Regions from separate parts of the Homo sapiens genome. Here region 1 is reported to be linked to region 2. Evidence: microRNA targets listed by miRTarBase, many of them from high-throughput screens and not tested one by one. Region 2 holds a microRNA gene; the other region holds the end of a gene's coding sequence.

Region 1 (4,000 bases), not on the chromosome of region 2:
GCTCACACCTGTAATCCCAGCACTTTGGGAGGCTGAGGAAGGTGGATCACCTGAGGTCAGGAGTTCAAGACCAGCCTGGCCAACATGGTGAAACCCCTGTCTCTACTAAAGATACAAAAAATTAGCCAGGTGTGGTGGTGTGCCCCTGCTACTCGGGAGGCTGAAGCAGGAGAACCACTTGAACCCGGGAGGCAGAGGTTGTAGTGAGCTGAAATCATGCCATTGCACTCCAGCCTGGGTGACAGAGTGAGACTCCATCTCAAAAAAAAAAAAAAAAAAAAAAAAGTTATTATCTTAGGGCTGGGCGCAGTGGCTCACACCTATAATCCCAACACTTTGGGAGGCCAAGGCAGGCGGATCACCTGAGGTCAGGAGTTCGAGACCAGCCTGGCCAACATGGTGAAACCCCATCTTTACTAAAAATACAAAAATTACCTGGGCGTGGTGGCACATGCCTGTAATCCCAGCTACTCAGGAGGCTGAGGCAGGAGAATCGCTTGAACCCGTGAGGCGGAGGCTGCAGTGAGCCAAGATTGCGCCCCTGCACTCCAGCCTGGCGACAGAGCGAGACTCCGTCTCAAGAAATATATAAATAAATAAAAATAAAGTTATTCTCTTGTTACACTTAGATTTTTTAAAAATTAGGTTTAGTCCACTATTTACAGATAGAGAACTCCATTCGTAGAGGGAAGCAGGTGGATTCAGGTGATGATTTTCTAACTTGGCCAATTATCAAGATCACCTCATGGGTTTGTAAAATAATTTCTGGAGGGGTCGGGGCAAGAGTGAAGAACTGTTTAGACATAATCATTCAGACATCTCTGTAAGGCATCTAGGTAGGTTTTGGGGTATATAGATCTAGAGTTTGAGAGTTCTAAGCTAAAGATTTTGGATTAATGAGCAAAAGCGCCACAAAAGTCACACAGGTGGATTAGATCCTCTGGTGAGAAAGGAGAGAAAGCATAGTCCAGGTGCAGTGGCTCACACCTATAATCCCAGCACATTGGGAGACAGAGGCAGGAGGATTGCTTGAGGCTAGGAGTTCAAGACCAGCCTGGGCTGTATAGCAAGACCCCATCTCTACCAAAAAAAGAAAAAAAAGAAAGGAGAGAGACTAGAACAGAATCTTGGTAAACAGTGACATTTAAGGGAAGGAAGACAAAGAGAAAGCAATAAAGGAGACTGAGTAGGAGTGGCTAGGTGAAAAAAGAAAGCCAGGACAATGAGAAGAGACTTACAGGAGGGAGGGCTCAAAGGTGTCAAGACCACAGAGACCTCTTCCTGCTAGATTATGACACTTCTATAAAATAATACTATATTACCTTATCTAGTGAGTCCTAGAGTTAAATGATTATCAGTCCCTGAATTTCTTAAAATATACAGAAGCAGGCTGAGCGTGGTGGCTCACATTTGTAATCCCAGGACTTTGGGAGGCCAAGGTGGGCAGATTATGAGGTCAGAAGATCGAGACCATCCTGGCTAACACAGCGAAACCCCGTCTCTACTAAAAATACAAAAAATTAGCCAGGGGTGGTGGCATGTGCCTGTAGTCCCAGCTACTCAGGAGGCTGAGGCAGGAGAATCGCTTGAGCCCGGGAGGTGGAGGTTGCAGTGAGCCGAGATTGCACCACTGCACTCTGGCCTGGGTGACAGAGAGTGACTCTGTCTCAAAATAAATAAATAAATAAGTAAATAAACACACACACACACACACACACACACACACACACACAAGCAAAATCGTTGGGATAAACCCTGTGAATTTTTATTTTTATTGTTTGAGACAGAGTCTCGCTTTGTTGCCCAGGCTGGAGTGCAGTGGCACGATCTCAGCTCACTGCAACCTCTGCCTCCCAGGTTCAAGTGATCCTCCTGCCTCAGCCCCCTGGTAGCTGGGATTACAGGCACACACCACCATGCCCGGCTAATTTTCGTATTTTTAGGAGAGACAGGGTTTCGCCATGTTGGCCAGGCTGGTCTCGAACTCCTGACCTCAGGCGATCCACCCGCCTCGGCCTCCCAAAGTGCTGTGATTACAGGCATGAGCCACTGCGCCTGGCCTGTGAATCTGCATTTTAAAAGAATCTTCCTAGGTGATTCTGATATGCAGTTGAGTTTGGGAACTGTTAATTTAAACCACTTGTTGATTTGAAAACAGATAATTTTAATTAAAAGCAATGGACAGAGACCTAAAAATAAAAATCTAGGTATATTAGCAGAATAATTTTAATAGTTTATGTTATAATCTCTCATTGGAAGGAATAGAAGCAAGTACTTAGCTTTCCACAATTAAGCCTTATAATGATGCCACAAGAATAAACTAATCCCCAAAGTCGAGAATGTATAATTTTCAAACACTTTTTTAAAAAGCTGGTGAATAACAAAGAGCTAGGATTAAATAATTTATTTAAAAAAAACTTTTCTCATAAATCTGTTTCATAAGCATATATAATAACATCATATATATTCTTAATTGGAGTAGAAACGTTTTTAAAATTACTGTGAAAAACAAGAGTGAGATTCCAGAAAAAATTGTGCCCTAAAGAAATCTGGTTTAGGCCAGGTGCGGTGGCTCACACCTGTAATCCCAGCACTTTGGGAGTCCGAGGCAGACAGATCACGATGTCAGGAGATCAAGACCATCCTGGCTAACACGGTGAAACACCTTCTCTACTAAAAATACAAAAAATTAGCCAGGCGTGGTGGCGGTGCCTGCAGTCCCAGCTACTCGGGAGGCTGAGGCAGGAGAATGGCATGAACCCGGGAGGCGGAGCTTGCAGTGAGCCGAGATCACGCCACTACATTCTAGCCTAGGCTACAGAGCGAGACTCCGTCTCAGGAAAAAAAAAGAGAAATCTGGTTTAGAAGATAGGAATGTTCATTGAACATTGACCTGAACTGTCAATTGGAACTAAAGCTTTTTCTCATTTCTCCACCTAAATACAGGAAAACAAATATAACATATTGAGTTTATAAGTTCTCCAGACGTCAAAATTGGTCTGGTTGATTAATCAAGTTAAATTATTTAATTCTATTTTCTATTCCTAAATATAATAACTAAATATAAATCACTGCTCAACAATGAATAAAGGTGGAACTCTAATTCTACCCAATTAATCTTAAAATGTATTATTTTGAGAACCAAGTCTTTCTCCTAGCTAAGTAAATGAAACTTTAAGTACTTTTTGGGTTTTTGTTTTTTTTTTTTCTGAGACAGGGCTTAACTCCTGTCACTCAGGCTGGAGTGCAGTGGCACGATCTCAGCTCACTGCAACCTCTGCCTTCCGGGCTCAAGAGATTCTTCTGCTTCAGCCTCTCAAGTAGCTGGGATGACAGGCGCATGACAGGATGCCCAGTTAATTTGTATTTTTGTAGAGATGGGGTCTCACGATATTGCCCAGGCTGGTCTCAAACTCCTGAGCTCAAGTGATCCACCTGCCTCGGCCTCCCAAAGTGCTGGGATTACAGGCATGAGCCACCGCGCCCGGCCAAATGAAACTTTCCTTTAAGGAACAAGTGCATTTTTAATAGATTCTGGAACTCGGCTTGCATAGTAGTCATAATTCCTCAGTGTGGCCAGGACTCCTGCAGAGTTCATATGCTTCACATCCTTGTGGTACTGAAGAACATTCCCATGGATATCGGTTAACTTGCCTATAGAAAAACATCAATCAATCAATCAAGTTAGTGGCTAATTGGATTGTGGTTTTTCTAGTTATTTTTAAGTGCCTTTTGCTTCCTTATCCAATAGTAGCCAATAAATTCTGGATGAAATAATGAGTGTCCATAAAGGTTAAGTTTTAATTCACTTGAAATTTAAGACTACAGAACAATTTTAACTAACTAAAGGATATAAAATTATTTTTTCTCTGATTAATATTAATTTTATTTAGCATTTTCTTTTCTTTTTTTTTTTTTTTTTTTTTTTTGAGATGGAGTCTTGCCCAGGCTGGAGTGCAATGGCACAATCTCAGTTACTACAACCTCGGTTCACTACAAG
Region 2 (4,476 bases):
CCTAGAGTTAGACTGTAAGCTGCCGCAGTGCCTGGGACAGGACTGGCCCCTATTAGGAACTAATGCATCTTTGTTGAATAAATGACTTTTTCTCCCCATTCTTGGTCCCCAGGCCAACTGTCCTGGCTCACTAAAGGCTCTGGCCATAACTGAAACTCTTAGACACTCGGGACCTTGAAGGGCCCTCCAAGCCCGGACACAGCACTATCCTCGATTCATGCCATGTTCCCGCCCCCCGCAAATAGCAGCCAATTCCAACTGCTCATAAATTTCCTGCCTGTCACCCATGGCACCCAGGCCAGGCAGGCAGGAGGTGCTGGAGGCCGACTGGTCCATACTTGCTTCCAGGTCCCTGGGGAGCTTGGAGGCCAGAAGCCCAGGCTTTGCGCCTGTGCCCAGAATAACCTCTGCAAAGTCTGTCCCTTGGAGAAGATGTGAAAGCAGATCTGTCAAACGCAAGGATGTCCAGGCTTGAGTGTTAAAGAAAACACCAGTGCAGCTTATGATGCAGCTTGTACAGCGTAATTCCACTTTTCGTAAAATACTGTATGTGAGTACGCATATGCATGGGAATAGCATATGGGACAATAGTTAACCAAATGTTATCAGTGGTTTGCTCTCCGTGGAGAGATTAAGGTGATTGAAACAATTTTCTTTCTGTTCACTCTTCTGTATTTTCTTTTTCTTTTTTTTGAGGCAGAGCACTTTGGGAGGCTGAGGTGGGCGGATCACTTGAGGTCAGGAGTTCAAGACTAGCCTGGCCAACATGGTGAAACCCCGTCTCTACTAAAAATACAAAAATTAACCGGGTGTGATTACATACGCTTGTAATCCTAGCTACTCGGGAGGCTGAGACTGGAGAATCATTTGAACCCAAGAGGCAAAGTTACCGTGAGCCAAGATCACGCCACTGTACTCCAGCCTGGGTGGCAGAGTAAGACTCTGACTGAAAAATAAATAAATAAAGATGAGGAAACTGACCAGGATGGTGGCTCACATCTGTAATCCTAGCACTTTGGGAGGCTGAGGTTGGAGGATCGCTTGAGCCCTTAAGTTTGAGACCAGCCTGGGCAACAAAGTGAGACTCCGTCTCTACAAAAGATAAAAAAAAACTAGCCAGGTGTGGTGGCATGAGCCTGTGGTCCCAGGTATACAGGAGGCTGATTGGGGAGAATCACCTGAGCTTGGGAGGCTGAGGTGGCAGTGAGCCTTGTTTGCACCACTGCATTTCAACCTGGGCAACAGAGCAAGACTCTGTCTAAAAAAAATAAAAAATAAATAAAAATAAAAATAAAAAAGATGAGGAAACTGAGGCTTGGAGAGGTTAAGTATCCTGCTCAGGGCCCCCCAGCTGACTCTGGGGCCAAGATGAACCCCAGTAAGAATCAAGAGCAGCATTCAGAGGCAAACACGAAGCCCCATTTCTAGCCCACATACTGGTGTACTTAACAGTGAAAGGCAAACTAATACTGTGGTTTTTGAAAAACTCTCCTCCCATGCCATATCTGCTCTTTTTTTCACCTTTTAGTTTTAAAATAACATTTGAAATCTGCCCTTTTTAGGAAAGACCAATTTAAAAAAAAAGTCAGGATTTCAACCCCATTGGAGGTTTATTCCTCCCTGCATGTAGAAGGCTGTATCAAAATTGCTTAAATACAAAAAATGTATAATTTGAAATAGTGGAAAATGGTTAAGTAGGTAAAGTGGGCATCATAGACTGACAATAAATGTAAAAGGTAAAATAACTTAAAGGCAGATAAAATCATTTTTTTAAATGCCCCAAAGTGGTAAAATTACCCTGCAGTGCACAGAAGTGATCAGGATAGGAAAACAATTAGAATTTTTTTTTTTTAAACTGGAAACGAACAAAAGCATAAAGGTTGCTAAATTGTTCCAGGGTTCATAACAATTACCACAACTTCCCTGAAAGTATAGATAGACCCATTTACAAAAATGCTCAATGTTACATTTGAAGTAGGAGAAACATCTTGCAATATATAAAGCCACAGTGAGTAAAATGCCTGTGACCAAAAGTAGCTATGATTGAGTCAACCAGTATTTATTTGTTGTTGTTGTTGTTGTTGTTTTGAGACAGAGTCTCCAGAGTCTCCCTCTGACACCCAGGTTGGAGTGCAGTGGCATAATCTCAGCTCACTGCAACCTTTGCCTCCTGGGTTCAAGAGATCCTCCCACCTCAGCCTCTCAAGTAGCTGGGATTACAAGCATGCGCCACCACACCCAGCTAATTTTTGTATTTTTAGTAGAGATGGGGTTTTGCCATGTTGGCCAGACTGGTCTCGAACTCCTGACCTCAACAGATCCTCCTGCTTTGGCCTCCCAAAGTGCTGGGATTACAGGCGTGACGCCTGGCCCAGCATTTACTGAGATACTGCTGTGTGTTAGATACTGTTTTGGGCATTGGAGCTACAACAGCAAACAAAACAGGCCACGTCCCTGCCCTCGTGGAGCTGGCATTCTGACTATAAACAAGTGAACAGATAAAAAGATGATTTCTGCTTGTGATAAATGCTCCCACTTTGCCACACTGACCAAATCACCTTGCTCTGATTCAGCACGTCAGAGCAGCTGAGAGGGACCTGTGAGGCCTCCTCATCTAGTCATTCTCAAGGTTAATCTTAGCAGCAGAACCTGTTGTTTAAAGGACATCTTCGGATGGGCACGGTGGCTCAGGCCTATAATCCCAGCACTCTGGGAGGCCAAGGAGGGTGGATCATCTGAGGTTGGAAGTTCAAGACCAGCCTGGCCATGGTGAAACCCCGTCTCTACTAAAAATACAAAAAATTAGCCGGGTGTGGTGGCGCACGCCTGTAATCCCAGCTACTCGGGAGGCTGAGGCAGGAGAATCACTTGAACCTGGGAGGCGGAGGTTGCAGTGAGCCGAGATCGTGCCATTGCGCTCCAGCCTGGGCAACAAGAGTGAAACTCCGTCTCAAAAAAAATAAATAAATAAAATAAAGGGCATCTTCTGTGGTGGCGGGGGTTCTGAGGACAGTAAGCTAGGGAGTAAGCCGGACCCAGAGCCTTGGCCGGCAGCAGAAACACAAAAACCCACAAAGGGCCAGTGCTGCGGGGAATGTAAGCCTCTCGCACTGTGCCCCTCACATGGGACACAGGATGTTGCCAGGCTTTCCATGAAAGGGGTTCTGTGGTGTGGTGGTCACAGCGCGGATGCTTGCTATTCTCCATATTTGCAATTATGCACCCCCACATGCACCCCCCGCCCCCCACACACAGCCACTTATGAAGAGGTATCATTGGCATCTTTGTCTTCTATCCCTCGGCCAGAGCTGATTGGTCCAGGGGAATAAATCAGACCTAGGCTAGACCAATGGGCGTCCTCCACTGGGTCTTGGGGATTGGCATGCTGGGAGACCAGGCCAGTCAGTAGTCAGGGAGGAAGGCGGATACCTGCAAGTGGCTGTTATTAGCAGGCGTCTAGAGGGCAGGGCCACAGACTGCCCCTGCTGACCTTTGCAAGCCCTTTGCTACCTATCCTGAGACCTTCCCCCTGGTCTCTGTGAAATGCCCTTTTGTAACTTTAAGTGAGCTTCCCTTTCCTGGAGGGTTGAAGTGAGTTTCTGCTCCTCACAATGCAGTAGCAATTACACGGTCAAATCAGTTGGGAAGGCTGGCTGCAGTGGCTCACACCTGTAAGTTTGGGAGGCTGAGGCGAGGGGATTGCTTGCATCTGGGATTTCAAGACCAGCCTGGGCAACATAGTGAGGCCTTGTCTCTATAAAAAATAAAATAAAAAATTAGCCAGGCATGGTGGTGCATGCCTGTAGTCCCAGCTCCTTGGGAGGCTGAGGCTGGAGGATCGCTTGAGCCTAGAAGGTCAAGGCTATGCTGAGCCATGATTGCAACCACTACACTCAGCCTAAATAACAGAGTGAGACCCTGTTTCAAAAAAAAAAAGTCAGTTGGGAAACTGGGTCATTAAAGCCACACAAATTTGTTTACTGCAGGACTTTTCGGAGCCTTTGACATGCTAATACATACAGTGACTTTCCAAGTGGGACCAAGGTATGTGGTATTTCCCAAACTCATGGAATGCCTCACCTAGCTGGTGTTCACAGAACACCTTTTGGGCAATGCTAATCTGCCTCCCCTCCCCTCACTGTACAAGTGACGGAATGAAGGCACAGAGCGGGAGAGTGAGTTACCCAAGGTCACACAGCTGCTGAATTGCAGAGAAAGTCCTGGCACCTGAGGCCTCCTAGTGTTCTTCCCATTACATCCCAGTTGTCATAAGACTTCCTTGGATGGATGATGTATGTGCTGAGATTCTTGGACCGAGGTGGTGGTGGTCCAGTGTAGACGCCAGGAAAAGGGTGAGGTCGAGAATTGAAGGTCAGGCCTTGGTGAGAGAAACCCCTGTCTCCTTTAATCCTGGATGGTAGCTGTGGCTTCAGCGGGGACTAAGAGCCAACAGACGGCTTGGGGCTGGCCCCAGGC

What was found. The annotated mature microRNA hsa-miR-6071 reads UUCUGCUGCCGGCCAAGGC and lies in region 2 at 3,041-3,059, opposite strand. An mRNA with a match to its seed (bases 2 to 7 or 8) in the 3' UTR can be bound and repressed. Matches are read on the target gene's strand: a 7mer-m8 pairs with bases 2 to 8, a 7mer-A1 pairs with bases 2 to 7 and ends in A, and an 8mer does both.
Region 1: the mRNA of BPNT1 is a reported target of hsa-miR-6071. Seed matches in the 3' UTR shown: 7mer-A1 at 3,302-3,308.

The regions. Positions count from the first base shown.
Region 1 is chr1:220,055,339-220,059,338 of GRCh38, forward strand. BPNT1 (3'(2'), 5'-bisphosphate nucleotidase 1) reads right to left here. Exons shown (of 9, transcript NM_006085.6): 9 at 2,144-3,654. The coding sequence ends at 3,506. Among named protein-coding and RNA genes, the nearest start is that of EPRS1, 11 kb to the left of the region's middle.
Region 2 is chr2:85,780,617-85,785,092 of GRCh38, forward strand. MIR6071 (microRNA 6071) reads right to left here and starts at 3,061; the gene lies at 2,984-3,061. All of the region lies in intron 2 of ATOH8 (atonal bHLH transcription factor 8), which reads left to right.